3 separate regions of the Homo sapiens genome follow, and regions 2 and 3 are each linked to region 1. Evidence: fine-mapped expression QTL. A gene starts in region 1. Each other region holds a variant in brackets. All regions are shown on one strand. Distances are between the middles of the regions. Region 1 holds the start of NRDE2 (NRDE-2, necessary for RNA interference, domain containing). Region 2 overlaps PSMC1 (proteasome 26S subunit, ATPase 1). Region 3 overlaps NRDE2 (NRDE-2, necessary for RNA interference, domain containing).

What was found. PIP is the estimated chance that this variant, and not a neighbour inherited with it, causes the effect.
Region 2: its variant is the best candidate, but not a certain one, in a credible set for the expression of NRDE2 in whole blood (TOPMed, PIP 0.60).
Region 3: its variant is the best candidate, but not a certain one, in a credible set for the expression of NRDE2 in whole blood (TOPMed, PIP 0.59).

What each region holds. Positions count from the first base shown.
Region 1 is chr14:90,329,371-90,333,599 of GRCh38, forward strand. It overlaps NRDE2 (NRDE-2, necessary for RNA interference, domain containing), which reads right to left and starts at 2,571. Exons shown (of 14, transcript NM_017970.4): 1 at 2,471-2,571. The coding sequence starts at 2,534. RefSeq lists an enhancer at 2,325-2,504 and a silencer at 2,655-2,804.
Region 2 is chr14:90,270,183-90,274,411 of GRCh38, forward strand. It overlaps PSMC1 (proteasome 26S subunit, ATPase 1), which reads left to right. Exons shown (of 11, transcript NM_002802.3): 10 at 16-170; 11 at 2,091-4,229. The coding sequence ends at 2,225. It overlaps NRDE2 (NRDE-2, necessary for RNA interference, domain containing), which reads right to left. Exons shown (of 14, transcript NM_017970.4): 14 at 1-4,229. Among named protein-coding and RNA genes, the nearest start is that of PSMC1, 16 kb to the left of the region's middle. The variant A/G (reference allele first, on the strand shown) is at 2,041.
Region 3 is chr14:90,277,562-90,281,790 of GRCh38, forward strand. It overlaps NRDE2 (NRDE-2, necessary for RNA interference, domain containing), which reads right to left. Exons shown (of 14, transcript NM_017970.4): 13 at 1,501-1,572; 14 at 1-900. The coding sequence ends at 775. Among named protein-coding and RNA genes, the nearest start is that of PSMC1, 23 kb to the left of the region's middle. The variant A/G (reference allele first, on the strand shown) is at 2,141.

The DNA.
Region 1 (4,229 bases):
TTGTCCAAATCCTACTCTCTTGAAGATCCATCCAAAACTTAGCTCCTGGCTAGGCACAGTGGCTCACGCCTGTAATTCCAGAACTTTGGGAGGCTGAGGCAGGAGGATCACTTGAGCCCAGCAGTCTGAGATCAGCCTGGGCAACATAGCAAGACCCTGTCCCTACTTAAGAAAAAAAAAAGTAGGCTGGGTACGTTGGCTCACACCTGTAATCCCAGCACTTTGGGAGGCCGAGGTGGGCGGATTATCTAAGCTCAGGAGTTCAAGACCAGCCTGGCCAACATGGTGAAACCCCATTTCTACTAAAAATACAAAAAATTAGCCAGGTGTGGTGGTGCATGCCTGTAATCCAAGCTACTCGGGAGACTGAGGCACAAGAATCACTTGAAGCCAGGAGGCGGAGGTTGCAGTGAGCTGAGATTGTGCCACTGCACTCCAGCCTGGGTGACAGAGTGAGACTGCCTCAAAAAAAAAAAAAAAAAAAGTAAAAGAAAAAAATATTAGTTCCTACATAAAGCCTTCTTTGAACCTTCTATTAGAAGTAATTATTCCTGGGCTGGGTGTGGTGGCTCACAACTGTAATCCCAGCACTTTGGGAGGCTATGGTGGGCGAATCACTTAAAGTTAGGAGTTCGAGACCAGCCTGGCCAAAACAGTGAAACCCCATCTCTACTAACAATACAAAAATTAGCCGGGCATGGTGGTGAGTGCCTGTAGTCCCAGCTACTCGGGAGGCTGAGGCAGGAGAATCACTTGAACCCAGGAGGCGAAGGCTGCAGTGAGCCAAGATCGTACAATTACACTCCAGCTTGGGCGACAGAGCAAGACTTGGTCTCAAAAAAAAAAATAAATAAATAAATAAATAAAAAGAAGTAATTAATCCTGCAGTTCACCTATGGTATCTGTAATATCCCACCTTGTACTATACACTTCTTTTAGGTGCACTCATGCATTCCTGCAACACGTAATTATTAAGTAACTACTATCGATCTGTACATCCAGAAAATATTTATTGAACACCTATTATACTTTGGACCTGTGCTAGGGGCTAACTATGCTACAATGAATAGACAAACACTGCCCAACCTGATAGAGATTACAGTCTAGTAAGGGAAGACAACAATTTTACACAAGAAATTACTCACAATTATGAGAAATAGGACAAGCGCAGTGGCTCATGCCTGTAATCCTAGAACTTTGGGAGGCTCAGATAGAGAATCGCTTGAGCTCAGGAGTTCGAGACCAGCCTGGTCAACACAGTGAGACCTCGTCTCTACTAAATATTAAAAAAAATTAGCCAGGCCTGGTGGTGCACACCAGTAGTTCCAGCTATTCATGAGGCTGAGGCAGGAAGTTAAGCCCAGGAGTCTGAGGCGGCAGTGAGTTATGACAGTGCCACTGTACTCCAGCCTGGGCAACAGAGTGAGACCCTGTCTCAAAAAAAAAAAAAAAAATTAGGAGAAACGTTACAGAAAGTGTAGGAACTATATTAGAGGATATAACAGACAGGTAAGACTCAATTGCGCCCTGTCACATATGGCACATAATTTAGAATTACTTTTTTTTCTTTTTTTTTTAGAGACAAGGTCCCCCCACCCCAGGGCAGGATGCAGCGGCACGATCATGGCTCACTGCGGCCTCAAACTTCTGGGCTCAAGCAATCCTCCTACCTCAGCCTCCTGAGGAGCTGATACTATAGGTGTGCACCACCACGCCTGGCTTTTTTTTTAAGAGACAGGAGTCTCGCTATGTTGATCATGATGGTCATGAACTCCCGGGCTCAAACTATCCTTCCACCTACAGGTGTGGGCCACTGCTCCTGGCCAGGATTAATTACTTCTTAAATGAACTATGTACCCCAATTTTGAACAATGCAGCTCTGCTGGAAATGTCTGGGACTTAAGTAAAATGTGTAAAGCCATAACCTGATACACACTAGGCCCTCAAGAATAAATGTTAGTTATTTTCACTGGGTGCTGTGCCCCTCCAGAGAGAAACTGATTAGGTTTTGGATACTAATCCCCTAGCTCTAGGCCGCTAAGTAATACCAATCTAATAAGCATTTCAGAAATAAGTATAACAGGAAAGGAAGTAATATGTAATAAAAACATTCTGCATTTGCATCAAGGGTTTCCTCGAGATGTCGAGTATCATTATTCCCAATTTAAAGATGAAGTAACTGAGGCTCGAAAAGAAGAACAGGACCTAACAACATCGTACAGAAGTCCCAGCTCCAGGGCATCTGCTGGTCTTTCTCCACCCCTCCATAACTCTACAACCTTGGTCCAGAACAGGCCTCTGGGCCCCAGACCTCGGAGGGATTGAGCCTTTCCCAGAAGGCTTTGCAGCGCCGCGGAGAACTCTGGGATACAAATGGATACACAAATCCAAAGCAAAAGTCTAGACCTGGGCCCGAGAAACAGCCTCTTAAGCCCCCCAGGTGCCTTCTTCGGCTCGTTTGTGTGCTTACCTTTCCTGGAGCTCCCGCCATCGGGAGCCTCACTAAGCCCCGCAAAGGCTGGGAACAGCGCCATGACCACAGGCCGTACCTCCGTTCTTCTCTATAGGGATGGCGCCGGCGAGCGAGCGCCGGTCTGAGGACCCCTGCCGTCGCGGTGCACTCTGGGAAATGTGGTTTTCGCGGCGCTCTCTGGGGCTTGACCCCGAAGCGGGAGGGGCGGGGCCCAGAGAGGAGGGTCGTCAAGGGACTGGGGCGCGGCGGGGCAGGGAGAGGCAGGGCAAAGCAGGGTGGGGCGGGGCCAAGGGGGGCGGAGCGAGGAGTGACGGGTTCCTAGTGGTTGGGACCCTGTGAGAACCGGAACTGCGAAAACCGGAGAAGGGAATTGTTGACCGCGAAAGGGACTAAGGAAATTGGGATTCCAGTTCGACCCCTAAATTCACACCATCCTTGCTAACTGGGTCAACTTAAACGCTCTAAGCATTACTTTCCTTATCTGCAAAATATTGAGAAGATTAAATGAACATATTTATAAAGGGCCTAGCATTGAGTCCGGCCCATGAAAAGCACTTAATATGTGTTAGCTATTATGTGAATTACGACTGCAAGTTCGGCTCAAAGTCATGTGAGATATCCGAACTTCAATCAGGTTACCATATTAAATACCCCAGAACAAGGAAAAATGGAAAGTCCCATCAAGTTCAAGGGTCTTTGATAGTTAGGAAATACCTGTCTGTGAAGCATTCTTGACCCCGGTTCCTCCCACCCAAAATCTAATCACACTTGCTACCAGAAATATAGAGAGTAAAGGAACAACTTAGAAGACTTTGTACTACCAAGAAACAATTAGCCAAATCTAGAATATGGGAAATTATAGAAAACAACCGTGCTTCCTTAACATATCAAGGGCTTTAAGAGGGCAGGAGATTGTAATAGATACGAAGATCTTACAGACACATCAAGCAAATACAACATATTTGTGGCCTCATTATAATTCTGATTGGACAAACTGTAAAAAGACCTTTTTAAGATAGATGGAGAAATAAGAAGGTAGGCAGAGTACAAGCAATTCACAAGTAATTCTTGTGAATTCTGTTAGATGTACTAAAGTACTTATGTCACTGAGGTGACCCTTATTTATTTATTTTGAGACAAGGTCTCCTTCTGCCACCCAGGCTGGAGTGTAGTGGTACGATCTCTGCTCACTGCAGCTTCGAACTCCTCGATTCAAGCAATCCCCTCACCTCAGCCTCCCAAGTGGCTGGAACCACAGGCATACACCACCATGTCTGGCTTAATTTTTTTTTTTTTAATAGAGACAGGGTTTCACCATGTTGCCCAGGCTGGTCTCGAACTCCTGGGCTCAAGCGATCTGCCCCCCTCTGCCTCCCAAAGTGCTGGGTGCCTGTGCCTGAGCACCCCCCAACCCAGCCTGAGATTACTTTTTAAAGTTCTTATATATTAGAGATATATACTGAAATATTTGCAAGTGAAAATAGATAGGTAAATGAAGATATATTTATTGGGATCCTAGGGAGTTAAAGATCTTTAGTTAGGAAATACATTATAAACCAGAGATGCAAATGTAATCATCTAATCAAGGAATGGATGGACTCTGATGAAGTCTGCAGACCTGCATAAGAATTAGGTTCTATGAGTCCAAAATAGACACCCTTAATGCTTTGAAGTCCCTGGCAGAGTACTTACAAAAAGGAGCTTAGTATGACAATAGGGGCAGTAATTCCTGTATGTCTTCAACTTTAAATCTCAG
Region 2 (4,229 bases), 59 kb before region 1:
TCTTTGTACCTGCAGGCCGCATTGACAGGAAGATTGAGTTCCCCCTGCCTGATGAAAAGACGAAGAAGCGCATCTTTCAGATTCACACAAGCAGGATGACGCTGGCTGATGATGTAACCCTGGACGACCTGATCATGGCTAAAGATGACCTCTCTGGTGCTGACATCAAGGTGAGAGCCTAGCCGTGTCAGCTTATTTCTGGGAATGTGGCCGTCAATCAGGAAAGAGTCTATATGTGCTCTTGGGATGGTGGTTGGCCTGGACAGGTGGGTGTCTGTATTTTAATCATCATATTGGTTTACGATTACATCCAAATGGTATATGTGCTTGATATTGAAGTCATTCTTAATGCATCATTTTATGCAGTGAATGACGCTAAATCACCTGGAGCCACAAGGCTGAGTCGCTGGTACTAAGCCTTAGGCCCAGGTGACTTTCTCAAGGTGTGTCAAATGTAGCTGCTCAGTCCCAGGTCAGGGGAAGGGTATGTCCTGGGAGAACTCTCCCCAGAGCCGCAGAGTGGGGACCAAGCACCCGCTGCATTCATCTCCCAATCTGTGTTCTGGAAGGTTGTACCAGATTATACTTCTTGGTTTTATGACAAATGTACATGAGTTAGGACATTTCCTCCCAGCTGACCAGAATTTACAGCAAGGTCTGGCAGCGTTGAATATGGGTTCTACCTGCTTTTCCTGGAAAGAGCTGGGTTTTCGTTGGGCATAAATGCCATGGTTAGGTAGGGACAGCACAAGCAGTGCCTTTCCAGGCCAGCACCTGCCCTGAGCCCACGGATCATTGGCAGTTAGTCCTAGAGAACTAGATGTCTCTGTTGGCAAGTAAAATCTATCTTCTTTTTTAAAAATTGAAAGATCTTAAAATTTTAAGATAAGAACTTACTTTGACAATTTTCAAGCCTTCAAAAAAGTTGCAACAATAGCACAGTGATTTGCCAAGAGTTAACATTTTACCTGTTTGCTTTTTCTCTTTCTATACACAAAACTTTCTTTTCACCCGAACCATTTGAAGTAAATAACCTGATGGCCATCACCAAACAAACTTCTGTGCCAGGATTGTGTTTTTTGCCACATCTTGTTTTTGCCACAGTAATTACTGGCCAAAAGAAAAAGAAAACAATAACAGTAACCCACATAATATGTTTGTTTGCTGTCCTTCTCTATCTATTTCCTTCATTTCTCTTTCCTTTCTAAACAGATCAGGCCTAAAACAATAACAGTAACCCATGTAACATGGGTTATTGTTTTCTTTTACTTTGGGCCAGTAATTACTGAGAAATTAAATATATTGGAATAAATGCTATACTCTGTAGTATTATTCCATAGTATAGATACTGCCACTTACAGTATCTAACCAGAATACATGTTCTTTTATGACTATAAGTAAATGAAATAGACATATACTGTCAATTGCCTCTAAGTTTCAGGGCATAATTTTGTTTATTTCCTAGGAATATTATTCTCTTTAACAAAAGTGGTGTTGTACAAGCCACATAGCTTGTTAGAACCTGAGCCAAAACTAGAACCCACAGCCCTGACCCTTGGGTCAGTCTTAGTTACAGTAACTCCCAGTTTAAGCCACTTCACATCCTTTCAGAAAATAGGATGCTTAAAACATTTTTTTTAAAAATCAAATCTTTCCCAAATAAGCAATTTGTGTTTAGTCTAGGTGTCTCATGCTTTATTTCAGAACAGATTTTTTTTTTTTTTTTTTTGAGGTAGAGTTTCGCTCGTTGCTCAGGCTAGAGTGCAGTGGCGCGATCTCGGCTCACTGTAACCTCTGCCTCCCGGGTTCAAGCAATTCTCCTGCCTCAGCCTCCCGAGTAGCTAGGATTACAGGTGCCTGCCACCGTCCCTGGCTAACTTTTTGTATTTTTAGTAGAGATGGGGTTTCACCGTGTTGGCCAGGCTGGTCTTGAACTCCTGACCTTAGGCGATCCACCTGCCTCGGCCTCCCAGAGTGCTGGGATTACAGGTGTGAGCCACCGCGCCTGGCCTCAGAATAGGTTTTTTGGAATTCCTTGTT[A/G]GAATAAAAATGAGTATGTCACTTTCTGAACACACTCTTCTTTCTTACAGGCAATCTGTACAGAAGCTGGTCTGATGGCCTTAAGAGAACGTAGAATGAAAGTAACAAATGAAGACTTCAAAAAATCTAAAGAAAATGTTCTTTATAAGAAACAGGAAGGCACCCCTGAGGGGCTGTATCTCTAATGAACCATGGCTGTCATCAGGAAAATGGTTGGGAGATTTCTCAATCCCTGAAAGGGATGAGGTTGGGGGAGTTGCCCAGAGGAATCCCTGTTCCCACTGATTTTTATTAGCAAAACATCCTGTGTCTTTTGGAGTACGATGTGTAAGTGCCCATTGGGTGGCCTGTTGGTCACTGTGCAGCAGTCTGCTTCCCAATAAAGCGTGCTCTTTCACAAACACTTCCTGTTTCTGCAGTCTCCACACACACCTACCGCTCAACAGCAGCCTGTGGGTGGACCCAGCTACAGGGAAGCCTTTGGACAGGAACTCAGGCTGCGGTCCCAAGGAGTGTGGACCTCACTATGCGTTCGCCACATCACACCCCCAGAGCTGGCGTTCAACGGTAATTACAGTGGGAAATGGTCACTACCACAGAGCCAGGGATATTCGTTGTTTAAATAATAAAGGCTGCGTTAATGTGGCTATTGCTTCCAAAGGAAGTACAGCTTTCCTTTTTGGAAGTTTTGTGGACCATGCATGTTCTTAGCACTCTGAGGGCAGAAAATAACTACTGGTGTTCCCAAGAGACTGAGGATTCCTAGAGATATCTTGAAAGCCCTTCTGAGCCCTTGGGCTCAGAAATCTCATCCCTTTCAAGGTGTTCAGAAACATGTCAGAACTTCCCCTTCCCTTTCTCCGTCTATTTCCGTCATTTCTCTTTCTGAACAAATCAGGCCTAAAGCTATTAAGTGGGACAGATCAAGGTAAGCGTTCCCTTGACAGGTGGCCTGGTGTGGGTTGTAGGGCCCACACTGAATGAGGAGTGTGTATTAGTTTTCTGTTAATACTATAACAAGTTACCACAGGCTTTGTTTAAAAACAGCACAATTTGGCCAGGCACGGTGGCTCACGCCTGTAATCCCAGCACTTTGGGAAGCTGAGGCAGGCGGATCACAAGGTCAGAAGTTTGAGGCCAGCCTGGCCAACATGGTGAAACCCCATCTTTACTAAAAATACAAAAATTAGCTGTGCGTGGTGGCAGGTGCCTGTAGTCCCAGCTACTCAGGAGGCTGAGGCAGGACAATCGCTTGAACCCAGGAGGCGGAGGTTGCAGTGAGCCAAGATCCCGTCACTGCACTCCAGCCTGGGCGACAGAGCAAGACTCCGTCTCAAAAATAAATAAATAAATAAATAAAAACCACAATTTTATCTCAGTTCTGTAGGTCAGAAGTCCAACACGAGTGTCTCCAGGCTAAAGTCTTGCTGTTGGCAGGACCGTTCCCTCTGGCGTCTCTAAGGGAGAATCCGTTTCCTTGCTGAGGATTATTGTTGGCAGAATTTAATTTCTTGGAGTTGTGGGCCAGCTGAGGTCAGCATTTCCTTGCTGGCTGCCAGCTGAGGCCTTTGCCAGTCTGTGAAGGCCACCCTCCCTCCTGACTCGTGGCACTTCATTTTCCACCAGCAGCAGCAGGCCCAGTCCCTCTCTCCCACCGACCCTTCTTTCTGCCTGCCTTTTCTATTCTTATGGATCCTTGTGATTGCATTGGACCCATGCAGATGATCCAGGATAATTTCCCTGTTTTAAAGTTTACAATCTTCTTAATTTTTATCTGCAAAGTTCCTTTTGCCATGTAACATTCACACGTTCCAGGGCTTAGGGTGTGGCCATCTTTAGGGGCGCCACTCTGCCTACCACAGAGGACATCCACACGTGGGGGTGGCCCAGTGCAGGGTAAGGACGGGGTGCTTGTGGGGAGGGCGGGTGTCAGCCCAAGTAGGGTGTGGAGCTGTCCATGTGGAGGAACACCACAGCACGGGGACTCAGCATGGGCAGGGTGAGGCTGGCATCCGTGTGGGGTGTATGTGCAGGGCTGGGGTGGTCCGATAGGGGGAGTCAGTGTGGGCAGCCTGATGTGCAGTATGAGAGCCCAAGTGGGTGAGGAAGGCATCTGCAGGGACGGGGTGGTGGCAGGGGAGGGAGGCTGCTTATGTATGGAGGCAGTCAGGCAGGTAAACAGGACAGTG
Region 3 (4,229 bases), 52 kb before region 1:
GCGTTGCTGCACAAGCGTGCCGGGCCCCTCATGCAGGCAGGGCTGGGGCTGGCGGTACAGCGTGCTCGGCTCCTAGACGGCTTGGGAGCAGGCTTCCCCCAGAGGCTGCCAGTGCCCCGGGCAGCCTTCCACACTCAAGTGGCCTGGGACCTGCTGAAGAGCGGGTTCTGACTCCACAGGCCTGAGTTTTTCAGCAGCCCCAGGGCACGCTGCCCCTCCAGCTCCAGGCGGAGGCATCGCCGCCGAGGTAAACTCAGGGAACTTGCCACACACTGCGTGCAGGCCAGAACACCAAGCGTTAACTGCGGGTCTCAACACAAGAGCAAAATCTCCTGCTCACCAGCCTGGGGAAGACATCCTAGTGCTGAAAAACCAGACCTTTATCTCAGAGAGGGCCTGGCAGGACCACCACGACACCAGCGGAGGGAACACATTCACCGTGCGGGGGCCAGTGCTGGCTGCGCACAGGGAGAGAATGAGCAAGGACGCTGCCACGCCTCAATCATCATCGGTTTAATGACCACGTGGCATGACTCTCTGGCTATGTACATATATACACATATTCACATATATAATATGTAAATAACTTTTGTGTCATTTACACACCCAAAAAGTGTGCAAGATGTGAGAGGCTGGCAGCCCACATTATTACTATCGAGAAAGAACATTTCAAAAGCCGAGTTCTCCTAACACACACGTTCTCTGCTCGCGCCTCCTAGCTCCGCAGGGTGGGCAACTTGGCCTCGCAGGCACAGCCCGTTTTCCCGCTGCTCTCTAATCCTCCAGCAGCAGCTCCAGCTCCTCCAGCGGCAGGCGCACCCGGAGCTCCTTCTCAGTCATCAGGTCCAGGATCTCCTGCATCTCATCGGGGAAATACTCCACGGCGTCCAGGTACAACACCTAGGGGGCAGGCAGGAAGGCCGCCCCACTCAGCCGCCACTTCCTGTCAGCCTGGAGGAGCTCAGGAAGCAAGGGCCAGGTTCCTGGTGACCCTGCCCTCCTGTCGCCCTCCACGGCCCCTGCTCCCCTTGGCTGAGACTTTCTTAACTCGGGCAGCACTGGGCATGTTCAGGAAGGACACTGAACTCGCAAAAGTGAGCAAACGCCAAGCGAGGCCTTCTCTTTTAAAAGGGGTCCAGGAATTGCTGGCCGTCGCCCTCAGTTTCACTTCTGAGTGTCACCTGACCTGGGCTCTCACAGCCAGGCTGGGACATGATCCCAACTCTTTCAGCATCTGGGCTGGACTCTGACCAAATGCTGGGAAACCAGCTACCCACGGCAACACTTCCATGAAGCACCAGCCCCAGGTAGGGCCAGGCTCTGACTCCACAGGGGACAGTTTCACCAGGAAAAGGCTCTGGATGTACCTTGGGACAGGGTATGGCGTCCATGAGCCGAGCATCCCCGGTGCCGCGGGGCAGGCCGGGAAGACACTAGCTGGACGGAGACCTGGCGGGAAGTTTTCGGGAAGCTGAAGACACCATGGCCTTTAACACTTACCTTTGCCCAAGGGCAATTCTGAAGTGCTTTGTAGAATACACCTTTGCTTCTTTCTTTATTTCCTAAGGAAACCTGAGGTGAGGGGGAGAAAATACAAACATGATTAGTTGACACAGAGAGGCTAAGGCTACACAAACGCCCCTGGATGACGGGCACAAGCCCTCAGCTGCAGTGAGCCCACCTGTGCAGAGGGCCTGGCACCGTCACGGTGGCTGTGGGACAGGGGCAGGTGCCAGGGAGCACTCTCAGAAGCCACTGCTGTGTTGGGGTTGTTTCCTCCCATTCAAATGGCCCCAGAGTGTCAATCCTGAACACTACTGACTTTTTAAAGTCTCAGATCTCCTCCTTTGCTGTAGGCTGTCACCTCTGGGTGTTAGTAACAGTGCTTGAAACCAAGGAGTGTCAGTGAGGTGAGGCTGAAGACATTATACAAATAGAGAAAATCTTCTACAATACTTATCTTAGAAAACATAGAGAAGACACTTGCTTTAATACTTGCCATTTTCTGAAAACTATCTTTTAGAGAAAAGAGATGGCCAGGACTGTGATCACTGACCTTACAAAAGGTGCAAGTTCCATCGGCAATCTCAGTATCTGTGTGGATATTCAGCACGTGTTCTCTCTAGATATAAAACCCTCC[A/G]TCTCGACTCAGCCACACAGCCTCCTTCCCAGCCCAGTGTGGAAGGAGACCCAGCCTGGGACCTCCGCTGACAACAGCCCCTCTCAAGCCCTCCAAGGAATCACAGCCCACACGGGCAGCTCCACAGGTAGCTGTGCAGCCAGGAGTGGGCACAGGCAGGGCTTGTGGAGCTGAAGTCTCTGTTTCCACCCACCCCGTCCTGCAGGCTCCCCTCCCTCAGAAGGTTCTAGGGGACGCCAGCCCTGCCCAACCAAGCGGCCGGGGCACAGCATCCAGCCCGGGACCAGTGAGGGCTGCTGACCGGCTTCCCAGAAACCTGAACAGTGGCATCCAGGGACTCCACTCTCCAATTTACATCTCAGGAACTCCATCTACCAAGGATGGCCTCACTCCCTTTTCTATTTGTTTTTTGTTTGGTTTTTTTGGTTTTTTTTTTCACTGTCTATGTTGCCCAGGCTGGCCTTGAACTTCTGGGCTCAAGCAGTCCTCCCACCTCAGTCTCCCAAGTAGCCGGGACTCCATGGCCAGTCCTTCTCAACCGTTAACTCCCACAGTCACAGGGACGGAACTGTGATAACCTTGCTTCAGGCAAGGCCCAGTCTTTCCCCAGCCTCTGTGAGTGCCACGCACAGGGCCAGCTGTGAGGCTCGGAGGACTCCTGCGTGTCCTCCCTGGTGGAAGCCTCCAGTTCTGAGGCTGAGCCTCTGAATTTATAACCAAAGAGCCACTGAGCGCTGTCCTTCCTTCCCATGCTAACATACTTCAGTGTCCTTTCCTAAGATACTGACAAAATGTAACAACCATGCACAGCTAATCTCGGAACCCAACAAATCCAGGTACACAGCTGGCCAGCCTCCATCAGCGCTGGAGATGCCCTCACTGCACGGAGGTATGGAAGGGCTGGATGCCAGGTGAAAGCTTGGTGGGGACCACGTGTGGCTTCCGTCCATGATTTCATCTTCTGAGACGTGGCCTGCGTGTACCTTTGACCTCTGACTGGCGCAGTCTCGAGGGAGGGAAGAGTTCATGGGCGCTATCTGGCTCTCCTGGTCCTCCTTTCTCATCTTCTGAACTGACAACTGAGACCCCTCATGAAATTCCTAAGTCAGGACTGAAACATAACAGGGGGCAACTCTTCTTTGCTGGAGTTCCCATGGTACTGTGTCTGCACCCTATGGGATTGTGTCCAGGTAAACGTCTCCTCAGGTGGACTGGGAGCATCTCAGGTAACCAACAGGGTCTTTGCTGGGAACCTAAGAAAACAGCTAATGGAGGAGCAGAACTGCCGTGATGGGTGCCCGAGTGAGTGTGTGATTCGGCCAAGGGCAGTCTCCCAGAGGGAAGCAGGAATGGAGACTTCACACAGAGGCCACTTCCCTCACACGAAGCCCCAGGAACCGAATCTCATACAAACCATCTGAAGAACTCAGCCAACAAGATGCTGGCCGGACACGGTGGCTCACGCCTGTAATCCCAGCACTTTGGGAGGCTAAAGAGGGCAGACTGCTTGAGCTCAGTAGTTCGAGACCAGCCTGGGCAACATGGCAAAACGCTGTCTCTACAAAAATATAAAAATTAGCCCAGCACAGTGGTGCGCACCTGTGGTCCCAGCTAAGGTGTGGGGAATGCTTGAGCTCAGGAGGTTGAGGCTGCAGTGAGCTGAGACTGCGCCACTGCATTCCAGCCTGCATGACAGAGCAAGACTCTGTCTCAAAAAAACAAAAAATGCTTATGACTCAGACCTGAGCTGGGCCATAATAATTCTCCCCTGTGCGACCACGGGGGAGGCGAGTAACAGTGGCAGGCAGCTGCCCATTGGCTGCATCACTAACGTCCCAAGTGTTTGAGTCCTCCGTGTAGAGAAGCTATTTGGTGCTTTGTAATCACTTGTTTTGGCATTTGTCTACCTTCTTAGCAGACGTGTGCCACCTCCCCATGGGGGAAGCAACATCTCTAAAAAACGAGGAAGCTGAAGGTCTTAAGGCTTTTGCAAATTTTGATTCTCTTTTTTTATCTCCTTATAAACAAATGTGAGCAACTGTTAGCTTATACAATTTTTTATGTAACAAAACATAACCAACCTTGTCCA